2 separate regions of the Homo sapiens genome follow, and region 1 is linked to region 2. Evidence: fine-mapped expression QTL. Tissue or cell type: whole blood. Region 2 holds a variant in brackets; the other region holds the start of a gene. All regions are shown on one strand. Distances are between the middles of the regions. Region 1 holds the start of B3GLCT (beta 3-glucosyltransferase). Region 2 overlaps B3GLCT (beta 3-glucosyltransferase).

The links. PIP is the estimated chance that this variant, and not a neighbour inherited with it, causes the effect.
Region 1: B3GLCT starts here. The variant in region 2 is fine-mapped to the expression of B3GLCT in whole blood (TOPMed, PIP above 0.99).

What each region holds. Positions count from the first base shown.
Region 1 is chr13:31,193,978-31,205,614 of GRCh38, reverse strand. B3GLCT (beta 3-glucosyltransferase) reads right to left here and starts at 5,640. Exons shown (of 15, transcript NM_194318.4): 1 at 5,461-5,640. The coding sequence starts at 5,530. RefSeq lists silencers at 4,680-4,929, 4,990-5,889, 5,940-5,999.
Region 2 is chr13:31,262,466-31,274,102 of GRCh38, reverse strand. B3GLCT (beta 3-glucosyltransferase) reads right to left here. Exons shown (of 15, transcript NM_194318.4): 8 at 4,826-4,889. Among named protein-coding and RNA genes, the nearest start is that of B3GLCT, 68 kb to the right of the region's middle. The variant C/T (reference allele first, on the strand shown) is at 4,825.

The DNA of each region.
Region 1 (11,637 bases), 68 kb after region 2:
GAGTTCAGGTCCAGCCTGGGCAATATAGCCAGACCCGCCAACTTTTTTTTTTCTTTTAGACGGAGTCTCACTCTGTCACCCAGGCTGAAGTGCAGTGGTGCAATCTTTGCTCACTACAACCTCGGCCTCCTGGGTTCAAGCGATTGTCCTGCCTCAGCCTCCTAAGTAGCTGGGACTACAAACACACGCCACCATGCGCGGGTAATTTTTTTGTATTTTTAGTAGAGATGGGGTTTCACCTTGTTGGCCAGGCTGGTCCTGAACTCCTGACCTCAAATGATCTGCCTGCCTCAGCCTCCTAAAGTGCTGAAATTACAGGTGTGAGCCACCATGCCCGACCAGACACCCAACTCTTAAAAAAAAAAACAAAAAAAAAAAACCTACTCAAATTGCCACCTAATATAATGACCCCCCAAAATACCTTCCAGCCAGACCTGTCCTCTACAGACCCAAATATCTAACTGCTCACCTAACATGGTACCTGGCCATCTCACATGCATTTTGAACTCAACTTGTCCAAAACTGAACTTACTCAGCTTCACCTCCCCCTAAAATTAAAAGTCAAAGTACATTTCAAAAAATTGTGTAAGTACTTAATGCCATAGAACTATACACTTAAAATTCATTATACTTAATAAACTGTATGTTATGTACATTGAACCACATAAAACTGTTTTTAAAAACCTGGTCCTCCTCCTTCAGTGCCCAAGTTAGTAAACAGCACTACTACCCATGGTGGATGTGACAGAAATGTATGACTCATCCTTTCCCCCACCCTTTCTCCCAGCACACTGAACCTAATCAGTCCCAGAGTCTGAGAGATTATTAATCATCTCTCACAACCTGTGTCCAGCAGCCTCCTCACAGTTCCCTATATCCACAATGGCCCCCTCCAACTCCTGCTCCATCAGACAGCCAGAGTGAGTTTCAGGAAACGGCAGCCATATCACATACTGCCCCACTACAGCCCTTCAAACACTTCCCTCTGCTCTAAGGATGACCCCAAAATATGTCCCCTGATCTGCAAGGCCCTACCCAACCTGGCCCCTAATGATCTTGCCAGCCCTTCAGTCCTCCGTCCTTTCTCCACTTGGCTCCTTCACCACCAAGCTCTGCCACCCACTTACCTGATTTCTGCTTCCCTTTCGGGTCTGAGCTCTAACGTCACATCCTCTAGGAAGCCTTCCTTGACCCTTACCCCACAGTTTCTCAAGCTTGCCACTGTTGGCATTTTGGATCCGATAATTAATTGTTCGATGGTGGGGTGGAACTGTCCTGTGCCTTTGTAGGATGTTCAGCAGCACCCCTGACTCTAGATGTCAGTAGCACCCTCTGCCAAACCAGCCCCTGGGATAACCAAAAAGTATCCAGACAGCAACAAACGTTCCCTGGGGTGCAAGATGGCTCCCTGTTGAGATCCATCTCCCCAGTCTAGGCAAAAGCCATCTATCTCCCTGCAGCATGTTCTCACAGCATCCTGAACATCTCTTCCACAGCATTTGGCACAGACACGATTCATTCTGTAGTCATTACTGCTTAACATCACCTTGCCTTTCGGGCTGCAAGCTCCCCAAGGGTAGAGACAGACTAGATCTGTCTTGTTCCTGCAATATCACGATGCCTGACACACAGTAGGTACCCACATTACTCTGAATAAATGAGAGGCTTTGGGCAGTTTTTCTTTTTAACACTATTTTTAAATTGACATTCTTCTAGTAGTTCAAGTCAACGCCTACGTTAAATCAGGTTTCTTTGGGAGTTGCTTAGTGACTAGAACTTTGAAATCATGGTAGTAAGGAAGAACTTCCTCAATAGGTCTGATGAACCCTTGAAACTCACAACTTTTCCTTTATCATGGAAAAGATGAGATTAACCTATGGGGACTCCCATATATTGTTCTTAAGAAGTAATCTGTGCAAAGCCAAAGATGGATCACACATAATGCTACAAGAGGAAAAACAGAACATTTGCAAATTTTCTCTAAGTAGTACCTTTATGCCTAAAAATTATGCTTGCTTGCTTGCTTCATAATGAGTCTAGTAAAACACACCAAAAAAACCTGGCTCCAAAAGAGCCAATTATAAGGAAGTGCTCAAATACCGAGCCCACAATGTTTGTCCCGCAGGAAGTTACCAAAGGGGTCAAAGCACCTCCTTCGAATTCACACTGCTATTTGAAACAGATGCTCTCCCTCCCTCCCACTGGCTTAGCTGTTGGCTACTGGCAAACTCCCCTGGGTCAAGTCCATGACCTGGGGAGCCATGCCAACTCGGAGGTCCTGGACTACCTGGATGACAAAGAATCCATCCAGAAGATTAAAATCTGTGCCAGTAATATCTGCATACTGCTTAAGAAATAAAGAGAAGGTTTTAAGAATCAAAAAACACAAAACAACCTGGAATTAGGTCTGACTCTTGGTGTCCTAAAATTTCTGACTCATTGCAATGAAAGGAATCTGGGCAAGACCTGGCTCAGAATGAAAAACCATCCCCAATTTTGGCAGGTGCTAAGAAATACAAAGTTGGCTCACACAGGGAAGTGACAGACAGGCATGTGAAAAATAAAAGCTAATACCTATTATTTTATCAATATCATTGGTTCGAATAAGCTTCTTCTATCAATTAGGATTAGGTTTGGCAATAGGATTAGGTTTGGCTGCATATAATCTCATGCAATACAAGTCTGCAAACAGGAAATGCAGAGCTGACATGATGCTCCACATCCATCTGGCATCCAGGCTTCTTCTATCTTTCTCTTCTACCATCCTTACTACTGGCTTCCATCTTCAAGGTCACCTCATGGTCACAAGATGGCCACCATGGCTCCATCCCTCAGATCCACTTAATAGGCAATGGGAAGGAGGATAACACAGAGCAAAAAGGCCTGCATCCCAGCTGAGTCAGCCACCTTGAATGAGCTTTACCAGGAGCCCCACCAAACAATCTCTAAAGATATCTCTGTAGAGCACTAGCTGCCCCTATATGCAAAGGCCACTGAGAAATGTCTCACAGTGCTGCTGCCACCGCTGCCACCACCACCCCACCATCCTTCCCCCCAACCCAGATTATATTAGTTTTGTTAGGAAAACAAGGGCTAAAGGGTTACTTCGCAGGTGGCTGTCAATCTCTGCTACAACGGGATCAGTATGTTAAAACTGTAAGAGGTGGCAAAGTGCTAGTATTCTATCCAGTCCATTCGCCCTGTTCATATGAGAAAACTGAAGCTCAAAGCCACTAAAAGCCACACAGCTAACAAATGGTAACCTGGAGGCCTGACTCAATCTTCTCATTCTGAAACTGGTGCCAGACTTTAGAACCAAAGTTGCAGTGAACCGTGTCTGTATATGCATGTGGGTTTAAAAGAAATTTTCTATATTGACTTTTCTCTAAAAATATAAACAAATATGCTCTAGTTTGTGGGGAAACTAAACTATATAGTCAGGCCAATCTTATATGGGAATATTTAAGGTATTTATAAACTATCAAGATTGTTCACATGTGACAGAACGCCTGTCACATTCTGTTTCAGCAAGATTCCAAGAACATCGTAAGTGGGGACATCTTTATACGTGTCGGTGCCCTTCCCCTAAATCGAAGCAGAGCTCCATAAAAGGTATTCATGATTCACTTCAGACCTCGAAGAATACAGCCTCCCGTCTGTGCCAACCCATGAAAGCCAGTTCCCAAAGGCCAAATGTCTCACAGGGACCTTTTAATGCATTTTATGTCTTATTTATTGTGCTTATCTGACAACTTCACAAGGCTAATAGACATCTCTAAAAATGTGTTGACATCTTAGTGCATTCTGAATGTCCTTCAGTGTATTATCAAATTTGGACAGTGCAAATATTCCCCTGGGGGTAATAAAAAATAGACACAGCAATACAAATGTGCATTTCAGCCCATATGTTGTATATATTATATACAAATATTATACCCCCAGTACAGCATTATAAAGTGCAGTGCTATAAATAGAATACCAATTTCAGCTACCACCCACCCATTTGGTTAGTTGCAAAACATCCAGGCAACAAGCCAACTGATGCAGCCAGGAGTCACCCAGTCGCTTTCCCAAACCTCCAACCTCCCTTTCTCCCAGGGCTGCCACCCAGCAATGCCCTTCTTCCACTGAAGCCGATTCCAGCCAAATTCAGTCGCTCCCCAAGACCAACTACAGCCTTCTCTGCCGGAGGTGCCCTAATATTTTTAATTACACTGCTGCCTAATTAATCATGCATGTAAACAATTACCAACTAATCTTGCTCTTTTCCCACACTTACTGAGCGCCTATAGAAATGCCAGAAGTACACAAATGCAGCAAATTAATCCTTATTCAGAGAGCTTAAATACAAATAAAAACAGGCTGTCAAGGTTCCGGTGGGCTAACAAGAGCAGTGCGCAATAACGCTACGTCTTTTCCTAAACTGCACCATTCTGCCATTACTAAAAAATCTGAAATCATTGCCTTTTCACACCAGCAAGTCTGGGTTAGAGGACAAAAACTCTGTAGCAGTCTGAAAAAAAAATAATTTTTCGCTCAAGCTTTCAAAGTTGAACAAATCTGATCATGAAAGTCAATTACAAGGCTGCTTTTTTTTTTTTTTTAACTTTTATCACATCGTTTTAAGATAAAGGGGGGAAATGCCCTTGCGAGGAGAAAAGAAATAAAAAAGAATGGGCATTACAGCAGCAGGAGACCGGGCAAGCACTGCTCTGCTCGCAGACGTGTCCCCTGATGTCCCCAGCGGAGACCCGAGACAGGAGCAAGCCTCCCCGCCGCGCCAGCTCCCGCGGAGGCCCAGCGGGCGCCCCTGTCCTCCTCCGGGTCGGAATCCGGGAAGGGCTGGCGCCGAGCTGGCCGCTTATCCTCAGGGGCCAGGGCACGTCCCGAAGGCCCTGCGGAGGGGCGCGCGGACACCGGGACCGCAGTCCTCGCCCCCGGGGGTCGAACAGGAGCCGCGGGGCCTCGAGGGCCGCCTCGCCGGCTCCCGTCCAGCCTCCCGCCCGGCGCGGGGCGCGCAGGACGGCGGAGCGCGGGCGGAAGGCAGGGGGGCGGGACCGCCGCCGCCGCCACTCGCGCTGTTGCAAAGTTTCTTCGGTGGCACAGTTCCTGCGCGCTTCCTGTGGGGGCGGCTGCTGCGCCCTCGCCGCCCCGTCGCCCGCCGGTTCGGGGCGGCAGAGGCTGGGAGACGCGAGTCTGGGGCCGGGGCGGCAGCGGGGACCCAAGACCGAAAGGGGCCGAGCGGGCACGCCTCGGGTCCCGGGCCCGGGTCCCACCTGGGCGCCGCGAGAGGGCGCTGCTGACGGCGCGGCGCGGCGGGGACCGGACGGCGGGACGCGCGCGCCGGCGGGGCAGGGCTGGGCCGCCCTGCGCCTCCCTCCCCGCGCCGACCGGGGCACGGGCGACTGTGCCCGCGAACCCCACGCCTCGCCCTTGCGCGCCTGGCCGCCCGCTACTTACCCAGGGAGCAGGTGAGGAGCGCGAGCAGCGCCGGCGGCGCGAGCAGCCACCAGCAGGCGGGCGGCCGCATCCTGGCGGCGGAGGCTGAGCGCCCTACCTGGGCGCGGGGAAGGGAGACGCGCGGGGAGCGGAGCTGCGCCGCTGCCGCCGCCGCCCTGCCGCCGCGGCTGACCCTTCTCTGCCGGCTCCCCTCCTCCCTCCGTCTCCGCCGCGCCATCGCCGGCCGCGCCCTCTGGCGGCCGGGAGCGGGAGCACCCCTGTGCGCGCTTCCAGCGTCTGCCGGGCTGGCGGCTGCGGCTGGTGTCCGGCCCGACGGGCTGCTGCGGTAGAGGTGGCCGCGGCTCTGCCCTCACGGCGCCCTCCTTCGAGGCGTCTGACCTCTGCCCCCTCCAGCCACCAGCCTCCACCCCTCCTCTTCCTTTCTCCTCTGCGTCCCTCCTGACCTAGGCCGCGTCCCCTGCCTTCATGCCCTCCCACCTTACCGCGTCACCCCCATCAGTAGTTCTACCTGTGAAGTGGAAGCGAGCAGTAATCACTTTTCCTCCCTGCTAATGTATTATCTGCTGTGGAAAAAAAAATGTAATCAATAGTTCAACTCTTAATATTGTTGGCACCAATGCTCTACTTTGATGAAGGTGTTTTTAATCAGCTCAACTAATTTACTTAATATCCCCTTTAAATGGAATTTGGCCAATAGCCTAGGTCTGGGATTTGGCTTTTAAACAAGTTTGTGTAAATGTAATTTTCTATAAATGTAATTTTAAGTGTTCACCATAATGGAAGAGAGTGGGTGTAATTTTATTCAAAATATAAAAATTAATTAAACTGGAATACAGAGAAGTGGAGCAATGTGGGAGTGCCTCCTGTTCCCGCAGGACTGCGAAGGGCTTTCCTCCCCAGCCCGGTAGAGTGGTGGCCCTGATAGGGGACTGGTCCTGTTGTGTTGTGTGGTGCACTGAAGGGGAAAGCATTACAAGTAAGAACTAGAGGCTCCCTTCAGTGGTTCTGAACTCCTTCGTGCCTCCCTCAAGCCTTGGCTCACTTCTGTTTCCAAGGAAGTGCACAGGACCAAGTGCTTTTCCCAGCCCTAGTTTAGCCCATGACCTCTTGAAGGCAGTTTCTATGTTTTCCTTCATATTTACTCATTTGTTGGATACCTACTATGTGACTGCAACTCTGCTAAGCACCCTAGGAATGCCAGTATCTTTCACATGGACATACAACATTCACCTACTTGCTAAACATTTAAGGAGGAGGAGGCCCTGGGAGTACAAGTAGGATGGCCCTGGGAATACAAGTAGGATGTCCTGGAGACAGAGAAGCAGGTGCTGAATAAACATTTGTAGGCTTGAGCCCTCTTAACTTGAATGCGTTTAGGGGACTTAGGCTCTAATGCATTAGGACAGTATTGTCTGCAATTGTGCAATACCTGCTGGGATTGTTTTGAAAAGGAGGCCTGGAGACAAAGAATTTTCTCTCTGTGTGGTTTATATTGACTTCTTAAAACTGGGAACTAAATATTTCACGTGTGATCCATTTAGTGTGAGTGCAAATAGTTCCCTTTTGTTCCATTCGCCCAAGGTTTATGGTCTCTTGTCAATACCATTTTGATGGGAGGAAAAAGAAATGTAGGGATCCTTCCATTTCATTTCTTAGTGAAGCATTTCAAATCTATGGTTGACTGAATTCATTGCTTTTATCCTTGGGAAATTCTCAAGCTTACCTGCCTAGTAGTTCTAGATTGTTTCCAATTTCCAAAGCTGTTTTCGCTTTTTTCCAAGAAAATATTCCTTGCATATGTGGGGTAGTAAACATTTAACCAAACTGTTTAATTAGACACAGAAGACTAATAAGCAGGGTCAAATGCCTACTCCACGTGGGTAAGCAACTCCTGGTGCTTAATCAATGTTTTCATGGAAATTCATCATGTTAGAGTATTACTATGTTCCAGAACAAGGTGTGGAAAATTAAGCCCTAAGGACAACAGAGAACACACCGTTTAAGTAATAAACTTGCCCTGGTGTCCTTCCTTTCCACAGTAGACATAGATAAATGGCACATTACAAAGCTCCATAACTCACATTTTAAAAAGAATTGCCTTTCACTTACTCTAGTCATATGATAAATGGACTTGCTGGGAGTTCTCTCTCCCAATCACATGTCAGGAGAGTTTCCTAGAGCAACGTACTGATGAGGATACTAACAGATACATGATAGGCACTGCTTGCCTATAACATTGACTGTAAAGGAACAACTCTAAGTAGAAAAAAAATAAATCCTATAAACTTTAAGATTGTGATATGAAAACAAGCAAGCCATCTTCTTGGGATTTACTCAATCCCAGCTGTCACCTCCATGCTGGCCCCTGAAACTTTCTTTGTTGAGGGACAGGGGAAGAAGCAAGGAGCCATCTTTTGTTGGGGAAGGCACTGTCGCAACCTGGTTAAAACAGACTGGTAATTTTACAGATAATTTTCTAAATACTAAAGGAGAACATAAAGACATACTAAAACCACTGAGAGCCAAATAATCTAATGAACAAGTTCCAAACAGATGGTTTCTGATCTTACAACAGTTATCCTTGAGGCCCAAAAGGCTGAACTCCATTCATTCAAATGATAGGGAGCACCTCTAGCTGATGTGCCCTTTGCTAAGCTCTGGGGCAGATATTAAAGAGCATAAAACATGGTCCTGGGCCCAAGAACTCACGGTCCAGTTTGGGAGACAAAAATGTTCATAACTAACTTTGCTACCTTCTTATAAATGCTATGGCATGCGTAGATCAGCACACTTTGGAACACACAGGGAAAAAAAAATCTCTCAGGGCCTTTGGAATCTGTAAGAAAAGAAGCGACTGTTGCACAGGATCTTAAAGGAGAAATAGCAGGTTCCTGAGCTGAGAAAGGAGGACAGGCGCCCCAGGCTGAGGCACAGCACGAATGTGCAAATCAACAGTAGTGTGGCGGGTGGGGAGAGGGGCTGCAAGGAGGAACAGCTTCTCACTGTGCCCCCTCCAGCCTGCTGCCTCTCTCCTGTGACTTGGAAGGGGCCTCCCAGGCACCCTGTTTCTATACTAGCAAAGCCCAAAGGGCATATTCCAACTCTTCCCACTCTCGGTGCCCTTTCACTCAGTGTCAGGCCTAAAGTGGATTAGCAGTCAACACAATTCAGGAGGACTATTCTCTTCCTGCATAAAACAGCAGGTTTATGAATTATGAGTGGTCTTGAGGATTATTTTCCAAACCTAAAATCAGGTCTTAAGGTTTAATAGTAAAATAGAATGTCTAAAACAGGGTCTCCGGGACTTAAGGTCATTATAATATCAGACCTATGCTACAGTACTTTAATCATCTGCTCACCATCCTCACACCCCACAATCAGTGCACACTAGGGGGTTACAGGAGAAAGACTCATCACTTGTACCTTACGCTTTAGCGTTTTGGGAAGGAAGATAATCTATGATCCCCGTGGAGAAGAGGGAGACAGGAAGAGAAGAGAGGGAGCAAAACTTTCATCACTCAGAGAGGACCCAGAGCCACAGCCCCACTGCATGTACTCAGGAAGAATCCTTTGATGACATACGGTGGTTTCTTTAATGCCCTCAGGGAGCTTGTCTCACATTGCTTCCAAAGCTATTCAAAAATTATAGGCAAGGCCAGGTGCAGTGGCTCACACCTGTAATCCCAGCATTTTGGGAGGCTGAGGCGGGTGGATCATTTGAGGTCAGGCATTCAAGATCAGCCTGGCCAATGTAGTGAAAGCCCATCTGTACTAAAAATATAAAAATTAGCTGGGCATGGTGGCGCACGCCTGTAATCCCAGCTAATCAGGAGGGGGAGGCAGGAGAATCGTTTGAACTGGGGAGGTAGAGGTTTCAGTGAGCCGAGATCACGCCACTGCACTCCAGCCTGGGCGACAGAGTGAGATTCTGTCTGGAAAAAAAAAAATATATATATATATATATATATTTAGGCAAAACCCATTCTGTCAAACCAAACTTTCAACCAAGATTTTTATTCAAAGAAGCTTAACAAAGGGATTCTCACAGCCTAACAACCCTGAACCAAAATCCAGGAAATATAACAGGTTACCATCTCAGCAGACCCCCCAGGAAAGCCCAGAAATCTGAAGCCATTGACATTTGAAGACACAGAGTGATATAAAGCCTGTCTACAAGAAAGCTATCCTAGAAACTTCTAATCAGAAATAGATGATCTACTTGGCTGTTTCGCTCTCCTTTGTAGAATCACATATCCTTCTGTTCCCAGTAAAGATCAGGAATCACTCATAGCAGGCATGACAGGAAGTGTCTGCATTTGACTTTCACTAAGAACAGAAGGCGTGGGGCATGACTGTTCAGCAGCCCACACAAAATGTGTTGGTGTTTTTGGTGCTGTTGCTAATAAGTAGTTGTTCATTTTACAACAGCTGCTTTCAGATGTAGGATCTTGCTTAATAAGCTCAACAAAAATTTTATGTGTTTGTGACGAATGTATCACGGACTAACTGCATGTATGAGGCCCTCATATGGCATGCTGAGTTTGGAGGAAAATGCATTTTCCTGGGGGAGATCACAGTCTAGTTAGGAGGACCAGGACATACAGAAATAGCCATAAACCCTCCTGGAACATGGAAATCCCCTAAGAAGCGTACGAACAAGGGCAAGGAGAAGGAAAGCACATTCATCAGTGGGGCTGCATGGGGCCTCACCGAGATGGCGCGGTTGCCAAGAGAGAAGGGGAGAAGGCATTCCAAGCAGAGGAGACAAGCAAGAAATGCCATGGAAGACCGAGAGTTCAGAGACTGAGGAGCTGTTTAGTTTGGCCAGCACGAGGGAACATGGAGGGGAGGCTGGTTAGGACCGTACCGAGCAGGGGCTTGGGCACCGTGCTAGGAGAATGGCCTTCCCTTGAGTGGGGCAATGAGCAGTGGATAGATGGAAGGATGTTTCAGCAGGTGATGACCAAAACCTCCACTACAAGACTGTAGCTCGTAAGGCCTACCTGGTGTCCTAACTCGGCAACCCCTATCAGAAAAATAATGAATATTTCAATTGTGATGAATTCACATGATGAACACTCAGTTCACGTGAGTTGGGTACTGATTTAATGATTGATCAGTGCTGTGAGAAGTTTAATTCAGTGTTAATGTTGTGGATGGATTAGAGAGGGGAAAGAAAGAAAAAAGACTGGCTAGAAAAAATTATGAGGAAAGGGGAAATGAAGGAAAACTAACATGTATGTACTGAACACATGCAGTAGCTAGGCACTCTGCCAGTTACTTTCTTTTTTTTTTTTTTTTTTTTGAGACGGAGTCTCGCTCTGTCGCCCAGGCTGGAGTGCAGTGGCGGGATCTCGGCTCACTGCAAGCTCCGCCTCCCGGGTTCACGCCATTCTCCTGCCTCAGCCTCCCAAGTAGCTGGGACTACAGGCGCCCGCCACTACGCCCGGCTAATTTTTTGTATTTTTAGTAGAGACGGGGTTTCACCGTTTTAGCCGGGATGGTCTCGATCTCCTGACCTCGTGATCCGCCCGCCTCGGCCTCCCAAGTTACTTTCAAATATATTATTTCAGTTAACCCCACACCAAAAAAAGAAAAACCTATGACAGGACTACTGTTCCCACTTTACAAGATTAGTAAACTGAGTCTCAGGCAGGTCAAATACCAACAGCCAGAACTGCCTTTAATGGAAACCCTGTTATTTAACGGAGGTAGTAGCAACAGGAATAGAAGGGAAAGGATTGCTGTGAGGGCACAACAGAGGGTCAGATCAATTATACTTGCGAGTGAGTCGATGCTGGAGCAAAGAGAGAGGCCACAGAGGAGACAAATGAGGCAATTAACTAAAACGGAGATCTGCCAGAGGAATGAGTTTGTGGAGAAAAAGGAAAGATGATCATTACTGCTAGTGTAAGTGACAGCAATGCCCTCACATTATCAATAGATGCATAGTAATAGCTAATCTTTACTGAAATGCTTGTTATATACCATGCACTATACTAAGTGCTATACGTACTTTATTTCATGTTGAATAATATTTAGTTTTCCAAACAGCTTTATGACTATCATTCTTACTTTAGGGAGATTAAGTAGCTTGCCTAAGGACAGCGATTCTCTTAGGGGTCCCTGACACTCAGGGTATCCAGGTTTACAAGGTCAAAACTACTTTTATAGCAA
Region 2 (11,637 bases):
TTTACATGTATTGCTAAGTTGGCACAAAAATGTGGAATCTGCGAGAACAAAAATGGGAAAGTGAGATCCTGGGGAAAAAAAGGCACCAAGGGTAGTTTTCCCTAGTAGGTATCAGCTGACCTCTGGCAAGGCTGAGTTTCTGATAGGAGTGAAGAGACTGAAGTCTATGACCCACCCAAGGTGGGGTGTGACCAACAGCAATCCCCCTACATAAAGCTAGGACCATGGGTCTAAATGGAGGGAAAAGAATAATCTCTAAATCTCCTCTTAGATTTTGCAACCAAAAGCCAGGCCTCCCTAATTTGTGCCACCTGTGAGGTCCCAAAACATCTCAAACTGATAATTTAAATTATCTCGTCAGTATAACCCACTAGCAACAGGCAGAAGCTAATGTAAATCCTTACTAAGGAACCACTACTTTAATATACGGCTCAGAGGATTTTTCCAAAGGAACAAGGGTGCTTACAGAACAATCACTCAGAGAAAAAAAAATCACACACAAAAAAGAAATAAGATAACGAACAAGAGCCAGCAGACATAATTTATTTAATCAGACTCAAAAAACTTCAGCTATCAGAATTATCAAACAGATTATAAAATTACTATGCTTAATATATTTTTATAAAGAAAAGAAAAACTTTAAAACGTGAGAAAAAATTATTTTGAAAAGATTACACAAAACAAGTAAGCACATTTGAAAAATAACTGAGGCTGGGCGTGGTGGCTCACGCCTATAATCCCAGCACTTTGGGAGGCTGAGGCGGGCAGATCGCCAGGTCAGGAGTTCGAGACCAGCCTGTCCAATATGGTGAAACCCCATCTTTACTTAAAAATACAAAAATTAGCTGGTCGTGGTGGCACGCGCCTGTAGTCCCAGCTACTCAGGAGGCTGAGGCAGAAGAATTGCTTGAACCCGGGAGATGGAGGTTGCAGTGAGCCAAGATCATGCCACTGCATTCCAGCCTGGGTGACAGAGTGAGAGAGACTCTGTCTCAAAAGAAAAACAAAGAAAGAAAAAAGAAAAATAATTGAATAAAACTTGTGATGACAGAAAATGACTGGCAACCTAGAATCATCTACATGATGTAAGCATGCTTCAAAAACAAAGTTGAAATAAATATTGTTAAAGAAAAAATATTGAGAGAATTTACCACCTCACTAAAAGAAATTCTAAAGGATATACACTTCAGGAGGAATAAAAAGGATTCAATTGGAAGGCCTAAGAAGCAAGATGGAATGATAAGCAAAAACAATGGCAAATATATGATGAGTTAATAAAAATGTTAACTGCATAAAATAATGACAATATCTAAGTTTCCAGGGTGAAAAGAAAAAGGGACAAAAATATTGAACAACAAGTGCATGTAAGTTGGGAGTGGGATAATCAGAGTTAAATTATCCTAAGGCCCTCAAATTTTCTGGCTATTGATTAATAAACCATTGTTAGGTTAAGAAAGCATGTTAAATATTTAAAATAATCAGTAAAGTACAGACAGATTTAACTTCTAAAATAGCAGAAAAGAAAAAATATGGACTAATAAATAAATGAATAAGAAGACAAGGAACTTTAAAATAGAAAAATAGAGGGGCCGGGCACGGTGGCTCACTCCTGTAATCCCAGCACTTTGGGAGGCCAAGGTGGGCAGATCACAAGGTCAGGAATTCAAGACCAGCCTGGCCAAGATGGTGAAACCCCATCTCTACTAAAAATACAAAAAAAATTAGCCGGGCATGGTGGCGGGCACCTGTAATCCCAGCTAATCAGGGGGCTAAGGCAGCGAACTGCTTGAACCCAGGATGTGGAGGTTGCAGTAAGCCAAGATGGCGCCACTGCACTCCAGCCTGGGTGACACAGCAAGACTCTGTCTCAAAAAAAAAAAAAAAGGAAAAATAGAAAATAAGGAGAGGGGCACAAAATAAAGTGATAGAAGTCAAATATATCAGTAATTACAATCAACATAAAGGTAAATTTGCTATCTGGTTTAAAGATAAAGATTTTCAAACTGGAGGGTGGGGGGAAAAGGCATGTCCTCTTTAAAAGAGACACATCTAAAAAAGATAAGGACACAAAAGGATTGAAAGAAAAAGACAAAAAACGATTATGAGGCAAACAACCAAAAAATGCTAACATTGAAATATTCATGTCAACAAAATAAACATTAAGACAAACAGCATTACTAAAGATAAAGACAAATTCACTAAGAGGATGTAACAATTCTAAGTTTGTATGCATCTAATTAACATAGCCTTAGAGTATAAAAAGCAAGAGTTGGCAGTTCCATAGGAAAAATCCACCATTATTATGGACGATTTCTACATTCCTCCCTTAGTAAATGATAAGCAGACAAAACAAAAGTAAAATGAAGGATTGAAGCAATGAAGTAAAGAAGAAAATATCTGAAAAGCATCATTAATACTTTCTTCAATCTAATAGATATGAAAACTGAACATGAGCTAGGCCATAAAGTAAGCCTAAAAGTATCTCAAATGACTGTTGTATAGACTACAATAATACTGTTAGAAATCAATAACAGAAACACCACCACACACACAAATATACTGGGTCATGATGAAAATTTATTTTTTTAAAGTGGGTCATAGTCAAAAAAAAGTTTAAAAGCTTCTGCCTTGGAGTAACTCTTGCAGATGATCACCATGATACACATTAAAAATATTCATAGAAGCAATGGTTGTAATAGCAAAAAACCAGTAGCCAATCAGAAGCCCATTAACAAGAGAACGGATAAATAAATTATTATGGTCATATGGGAGACTACTATAGAAAGTAAAAATAAGTTAATTAGAGCTGCATGAATCAACATGGATGAGTCTCAAATTAGAACAGTTATTTGTGATAGAGGTGGGAGACAGCCAAATGCCTAGGCAGATAGGGAAGGGCCCCCAGAGAATCTCTGATCAACCCCACAAGTGTTTATTTACACCAAATGTTTTGTCCGAATATGGGAACCTGCACAGGGGGTTTGCCTAGGCATGCCTGCAGTGGACTGGAGGCCCACATGCATGGAGGCCCACATGCACTGGAAGAATGGGGTGGAGCCACCAGGAATTCACGCCTTATGCAGGGGAGGAGAGTCCTCTTCAACTCGTGTGTAGGGGCCCTGGTATTCATTTTATGAGGTGGAAACCTGCTGACAGGACCCCCTCTCTTTGCTGAGAGCTTTCCTTTCACTTAAATACATTCCATCCTCCTCACCCTTCAATGTGTCTGTGTGCCTAATTCTTCCTGGTTGTGAGACAAGAATCCAGATTAGCTGAACTAAGGAGCAAAAAATCCTGCAGCATTTGTATACAATTTTGTTTATATAAAGCCCAAAAGGATGCAAAATTACATGTTATTCAGAAATACATTCATACGTAATAAAATATGAAGAAAAGTAAGGGAGAGGGAGAGAATTCAAGAGAGTTTAGTGTGGGGAGACGGAAGGAGGCCTCTCCTCAAGAAGCACATAGGTAGCCTCAAGGTCACTCATAGTTGTCTCCTTCTTAAACCAGGCAAGCTAGTTAAGTATTTTGTTCATTAATCTTTATACCTTTCATATATGTTAGAAATATTATTTTGTATATATTCAATGTTTAGTAGATTTCCAAACCTAAGTATCTAGAGCTGACTTTTCATTAATCCTATCTAGGCAGAACTTGGTTTTCAACAAGCCATTTTTTTCATCTTTGTGGAAGAGAAGAATTATGTTTTTCTAAGTTTATTTCTACTCAAATATTCTGTATTACCATTTAAAGACAGCTGAGAAGTCAGAAAGTCTTGTGTGTGCCTTCTTGTCCCTGGAAGGCCATCAGCACTGCTGGACTGAATTACATGTCAAGATTTACCTTAATGTCCTAACATACAGATTCCTGCAGAGAATGAGAGGCAAGACTGTTTTGTGCAGTCAGGCATGCCCACAAGTGAAATGCAAAAAGGGCCTTCTTAATGATGATTCGAGAATAATTAATGATGGGACAACTGCCACCTGCCTCTAGAATAACTGGTCACAGATGTCCAGTAAATGTGAAGGAACCAGGAGTGTTAGGGCTCCAGGCTGCCTGCTTGGGACCAATAGGCTCAATTCTGCTCCAGACAGCCAAGCACAGACACACAACAAAGGCATACGTCTTAGTCTGTTCAGGCTCCAACAGTAAAATACCATAGACTGAGTGGAGTCTAAATAACAAATTTATTTCTCACAGTTCTAGGGGCTGGGAAGTCTAAGATCAAGGGACTGGCAGATTAAGTGGTGAGGGCCTGCTTCCTGGTTCATGGATGGCACCTTCTAGCTGTATCCTCACATGGCAGAAAGGGCAAGGAAGCCCCCTGCGGCCTCTTTTATAAAAGTGCTAATCCCATTGATGAGGGCTCCACTCTCATGCCCCTATCACCTCCCACAGGTCTACCTCCAAAGACCATTTCACTGGGGCTCAGGTTTCAAGGTATGAATTAGGGGGGCGGGGACATGATCATTCAATCTACACTGGCATACGTACAACCGAAGCATCAAGTAAGAGCAGAGGTACTTTTAATGACATTTTTGCATTTTTTTAGAAATCTACCTCTGGACCCATTCATCTAGCTTAAAAGTAAAGAATCATGAATCACAAGATGCAACCTTTTTCACTGTTCTGTCTTCATCTACATAACTGAAATGAGCTTAAAATAAAAGCACCTAATTCGCTGGAGTGCTATGAAATTATCTCTGTGGGGAGTAGATGTGGGTGGGGAAAATGCAAGATTAGGGAATGCAAAATACCTTTTACATCAAAGGACATGAATTCTTGATTAGTAAGATTTTTAATCAAACAAAACATGACATA[C/T]CTCATGTTTTAAATCTATTGTAAAGTCGGATTTCAAGGATTCACTCTTTAGTCTCTTGGTAAGCCTAGAAAATAGAGACAATTTGATTTTTTTTAACCAAAAGAAGTGTCAAGCAAGACTAACACATTCTTGAGACTTTCTAGTGTTTGAAAACAGATAAACATACAGATTTAAAGATAAAAATAACAGTTTAAATTCCTTGAGGGAAAGGACTGTGAAAACCCAACGGCTGGCTGACCAATAAATGAATGCAAGCCTGGTTGCAAAAGTAGCATTCATTATTCCAACATCTGCCAAACAACGTACAATACAATACAATGCCTTGGGGAAAAAAGTCATAAGCTTTGTTGACTCCTTATCATCTTTACACTAAATAATGACAGAGAAAGAAAAAAGAAAGAGGGAAATAAATTATGCTTGAGAAAGACAATGGCCACTTTTTGTTTCTCACTTTAATGAATCTTGCTGGGTTTTATGGGGGAAAAGCATGTGGTTTTGTTTTATTTCAAGTCACTGTCTTGTTTGAACATTTTCAATGGCTCCTTTCCCATACAGAATAAAGCCCCAAACTCCTGAGCCAGTCTTGAGGGCCCTACCATTCCCCTGACCATCTCTAGCATCACAGCACCCACTTGCTACACCCAGAGCACACACCTCCCCATTGTTCTCTCCCAATGGACATCTGCCTAGAGTGCCTGTACCCAACCTTTACTGAGCAAACTTGTAAACACCAAACTCATGGGTATCTTCTCTGTAAAACTTTTCCAGGTTTGCCCATCAGAGTAAATGGAAACTTCCTTGACCACCAGAGTACAAAGCACGGACCTATCAGCTTTACCACATTCATTAAAATCTGGTGCATACATAACTCTCTCTGTGCTATACTTTCTCCTCTGTCTTGCCAGCACTGCCCACCGCACCTGACCACAGTGAGCACTCAGTGAACTCCCTGAATGAATTAGACAACATATTATTTGATTCAAAGCTAACGAGGGAGGAATACTTACCCAAATCACCAAAATACCATATGGTTTTTTATTTATTTATAGAGCTCAAGACTAGACTATTAAATTACAAACCTCCTAATACATAGTTTCACTACAAAGAAATAATAGTGATTTTAAAAAGAGTAGGCTAGGCACAGTAGTTCATGTCTATAATCCCAGCACTTTGGGAGGCAAAGGCAGGAGGACTGCTTGAGGCTAGGAGTTAGAGCCCATCCTGGGCAACATAGTTTAACATAAAAGTTAAAACAAATTAAAAAAAAATTTTTAAGTTAGTCAAGCATGGTGCACTTGTATCCTAGCTACTCAGAAGGCTGAGGTGGGAGGATCGCTTGAGCCTAGTAGTTGAAGGCTGCAGTCAACTATGATCACACTCCAGCCTGAGCAACAGAGACCCTGTCTCGAAAAGAAAAAAAAAAAAAGAAAGAAACAAAAATTTTAAAAGAAAAAGGAAAAATACTAGTAAGTTTCCATTTTTTTCTACTGTTTTTAATTACATCTGTCTGGTTGGGCCACGAAAGATTTCTATAAAAATTCACTTCTGATTAGAAGAAGACAGAAAGCAGACACAGGATAAATGTGCTTCATTACAAAGCATTTGTCTCACAGCTGATACTAACACAGCTTGGTAGCAGGTAGCACCAAAAGAAGCCCCATATAATATCTGTCACATTCCCACTCAATACTTGCCCACAGATCTGTGAGTATAAGTGGGGTGGACTGAGAGACTATATCCTCAGATACACTCCAAATATATACTTAAGAGAAAAAATGTCTGCCCTGGCAAGTGAGATCTTGTTCAATTTGAATTCTGCTCAGTTGGAGCATGTTTTCATAAATAAACTGCATCAAGGTAACTTTGGGATTTGGACTCATGCCACATGCCTTCAAAATCTAATCAGACCACAAAGAGTAAGTATTCATTTCATTCAGGCTCCAAAGACAGAAAAGTCATACCCGGGCTTATTGCCACAGGCAAGGAACACCAAGTTGTGATTAGAATACAAGAGGCATGTGACCTCCACTGTTAGATGGCAATGTTTCATAGGCCCCTTCATAACAGTCAGTAAACACCTTAGTACTGTTACCTTAAACATGCTCTCCATCTTTTTGGCTTTTCAAGTTTCTTTCTCATTCAATCCTTGAAAATTCTTTTTCTTTGAGGGAAACCTCAGAAGGGGAAAAAGTGAAAACCACTGATAGAATTTCTGAGAGTGGCTCATGCCTGTAATCCCAGCACTTTGGGAGGCTGAGGCGTGGGGATCATCTGAGGTCAGGAGTTCAAGACCAGCCTGGCCAACAAGGTGAAACCCCGTCTCTACTAAAAATACAAAAATTAGTCAAGCATGGTGGTGCATGCCTGTAATCCCAGCTACTCAGGAGGCTGAGGCAGGAGAATTGCTTGAACTCGGGAAGTAGAGGTTGCAGTGAGCCAAGATCATGCCACTGCACTCCATCCTGGGCAACAGAACAAGACTCCATCTCAAAAAATAAAAATAAAAAAGAATTTCTGAGACAGAGAAGGACTGATGAGAGGACAAATGAATATATACATGGCTATCTTTCAGTGGCAATCTCTTGCAGCCCACAGAGTGTACCACAACCTCAATATCACAGACTTCTAGTGGAAGAGTTAGCCTCACGTGCCATCTCAGGCCTATGTCAGTCATCCAGTCACCTTGCAAACAAGTTCAAGTTCTAAGAGTGTGCAGGGTGACCAACTAACTTAAAAGGCAATACCTAATAGTGGTAACTGGATTTCAGTTTTCTATACACCAAGCAAGATAACAGGTTTTTCCAATGCTAGTTTCAGTAACCAACAATACCAAAAAACCAATGAAAGCCAGAAATTCCAGTTACTTAGATGAAATGTTTCCTCATTAAATATTCAGTTCCTGGAAAACACGAAGTTTGGTACTTAGCTTTCCTAATTTTTAGAATTATTGGGCCGGGTGTGGTGGCTCATGCCTGTAATCCCAGTACTTTGGGAGGCTGAGGTGGGCGGATCACGAGGTTGGGAGGCCAAGGCGGGCAAAACATGAGGTCAGGAGATCGAGGCCATCCTGGCTAACACGGTGAAACCCCGTCTCTACTAAAAACACAAAAATATTAGGCGGGTGTGGTGGCGGGCACCTGCAGTCCCAGCTACTCGGGAGGCTGAGGCAGGAGAATGGCGTGAACCCGGGGGTGGAACTTGCAGTGAGCGAGACTGCGCCACTGTACTCCAGCCTGGGCGACAGAGCGAGACTCCGTTTCAAAAAAAAAAAAGAAGTTAAGTCATGCCCCCAATAGCACAGTTCTAATGACACAACCACCTAGGCTACAGATGTGCAAATGACTGAGGGTCCTTTCAACTCAATACCTAGCTGACTTTTTCAATTCTACTTCCTAGCTGACTTTTTCAGTCCCACTTCCTAGCTAACTTTTTCAGTCCCACTTCCAGGCTAACTTTTTCAGTCCCACTTGTGAATCAGTCAACAGAGCCACCTGCTGAAGGAAATCTCGATAAGGTTTGCTGGTGGAAAAACAATGGAGAAAACCAGAAACAGTGTCCTGGAATGACATATATTTGAAGAAATCATCTTATTGGTAGTTAATGAAAATTTCTCCAAAAATGAAAGTATTGTTTTAATTGATCAAATGGATGGACTGCCAGGAAATATTAGGCAGTGTGAACTCAAAACTGATGTGGAATTGTTAGGCCAAATAAAATTTTGGTTGGAAACAGTCTAAGAAAGTGTGTCTCATGAGCTATCTTTAGGTAACCAGTTGTCCTGGGGACTAGGACAGAAGAAACACCTAAGTAACTGTAAGTTGTTACGCTACCTACAATGTGGGCCGTAAAGTCAAGGAAAGGACACAAAGGGAATCAACATTCCTGGACTGGCCTTCTTGGTTGTCTATATAATACAGAGTTTCCCCTTCATTCTTTCTAAACAAATTCTGGTTTTGATTAATATTGAGCCCAACAATTATACAGGCTCCAGAGTCAGAGATTGATTACTCTGGGCCAGCCAGAATAATCAATGAAATTCCCTGGCAACTGTTAATACTCTGGGGATTAGAACTGAAAATTCTAATAATTCTAATAATCAATGAAATTCCTGCGCAACTGTTAATAGTCTGGAGATTAGAACACACATGCAGTTGGCCCAACCAGACTGAGGACAAGCACTTACCATTCATGGTTGGGAACAGGCTATCTACTATTGGATGCAAACAGGAAATATGTAGCCCTTATTGTCTTGAAACCACAAGAGGAACCAGATTTAGGATAAATGGATTCTGTGTACTATAGGCTAGAGGGACAGAGAAAGTGTGGGTCCTCAATGATATTGATAAACTGCTAGATCAACCAACCACAGACCTCACCCCAATTACAGCAAAAGTATTTCCTTAATCCAGTTTGAGTTGCTTCCTATTACTTGCATCCAAAAGCATGCTAATTGATATAGCTAATAATAATAGGAAGAAATAAAGTCAGCACATTAGCTTTGAATTGGGAAAACAACAACTAGGAAGATCCAATGTTGCAGCTGATGGGGCTAATGAATACTTTATCCTTCCTTTAGTCCTGAGTATAATACCAGTTTCTTGAAGAATAAATAAGAATCCCCACTAGAAAGCCATTTTAAAATATATCTTGACCACAAGATAGTTGCTATGCTAGATGGGTTATATCATTTGCTTGATTACTTGTTGGCATCGGGGGAAAGGAAATATGATCTAAGGTAAGTAGAATTTTAAATATGGCATTATGGTAGAGTCTGCATATTTATTTTGCTTTTTTTTCCTGGCAGAGGAAAGGGAGAGGAGGTAGGGAGAAGACCATGGATATCAATGAACTATACACATTCTACGGTTTGTTGGTCACTGTTGAGCGTTGTGACGAGCAGATGACACACCATGCAGAAGGCTATCTGGTGCCTCACTCCTCTATCATACTGGAGTCACGGGGAAGTGCTGGGAATTTCCTGAGCTTTGTGGAAAAGATTAACCTCTTGGCTTTAATTCCCTTAGTCATAGTTCCCTATTACTATGGTCTGAATGTTTGTGTCCCCTCTCAAATTCATAGGCTGAAGTCCTACCCCTCAAGGCAATGTTATTAGGAGGCAGGGTCTTTGGGAGGTGATGAGGCCATGGGGAGGGAACTCTCATGAATGGGACTGCACCCCTATAAAAAAGACCCCTCGTCCCTTCTCCCAGATGAGGGGACACAGCAAGAAGGAAAGGAACCAGAAAACTGGCACTCACCAGACACTGAATCTGCCAGCGCCTTATCTTGGACTTCCAGCCTCCAGAACTATAAGAAATAAACTGCTGTCGTTTATAAGCTACCTGGTTTATGGCATTTTTTTATAGCAGCCCAAACAGACTAAGATGCCTACACACCCTGCTGCAGTGACAAGGCCCTCAGTTCTCACTCCTAAATATGGTTAAACTTGACTAGAAAGGGAGATGTGAAACCGCTATGGAAGCTGGGCACTGGCTACCTTCCCTTGTCAACAGATGTGTTCAATGATCTCACAAACACAATGGGGAAGGGAATCATGGACCTGTGGTCTCCTGTGGGACTACCTTGCAAAATGCCAGATAATCCAGAACATACAGTCGCCCCTTAATAAAGCTAACATCTCAGCTAGTGCACAACCTGCAACCCTGGTTCATGAACCCCTGGAAGCTAGTCATGTGGTGAGCATGAGACAGTAATGAGGTGAGCACTAGCCAGAGCCAACAAAGCCTGCCAGTGCTCTGGGTGCTGCTACACTTGATGAGCAGTGAAGCAGAGGACAGAGGTTTCCTAGAACAGGTTATACTTAATGCCAGCATGTCAGCCATAAGAGTTAGGTTGAACTGCCCTATATAGGGATGCCAGGAGTCAAAAATGTGTTCAAACAGGATCACTTCCATCAACCTGCACCTGGTTCAGACAGTAAGTCAAAGGAAGCAAGAATAAATAGTTACTTCTAACACCTAATTCAACAAAAACGGAATTGAATTCAGCATCAAGAGGTCTCCAAGAAAGTCTTGCTAAAGGAAGACAGGAAATTGTGATGGGAAGAAGGAAGGTAAAACTCTAGACTATAAGGATTTGCCTTCAGGATGAGAGGCCTCCTGGATCAGAAGGCAGTGATGAAGAAAAGAGCTACACTGGCTTCAAGGAAATGATTACACCCCCGCTTGCCATATAGCTCTACCTGGGCCCACTGGTTTCCTCTTTAGCCCTGGAGGAAGAAGAACCTGCTGCACTTAACAGCACTTTACAGGGCAGGCAAGAGCTGTGTTTGTTCCTCTCTCAAGGGACTTCATAGCACATGGGAAATGGGAGAGAAACAGGCTTATACAGAGGTTATAAGTCCCAAGTCAGAAAAATCACAGCCACGTGGGACTTCTCCCATGGAGAAGTCAGACCAAATCTTTCTATACTATAAAACTAAGTAGAGATCAAATGAGGAAGGCTAGAGGAAGCCTCCTGTGGCCGAGGATGAGAAGAATACTTGAGGAAGGGAAAAGGAACAGTGGCTCAGCCTACAAAGTGCAGGTCACAGCTTCTATTCATTAAGAGTCCAGACTCAACAAAGGTGGCTAAACTGGCCCCAAACATAAGGCTGCTGGACACTGCAGGAAATGAATGTCCTGGGAGCTCCTGGTCCTCAAGCTGTAGCAAACCAAAGTGTATTTAATTTGAGAAGAAACACGACCCAAGGCTGCTGAAGGGCAGAACATATTCCCCTCTCCCCTGCAGAGCACAGAATTAAGCAGACCAGTAGACGGTGAGAAGGGAATGACCACTACTTCTTCTTGTCT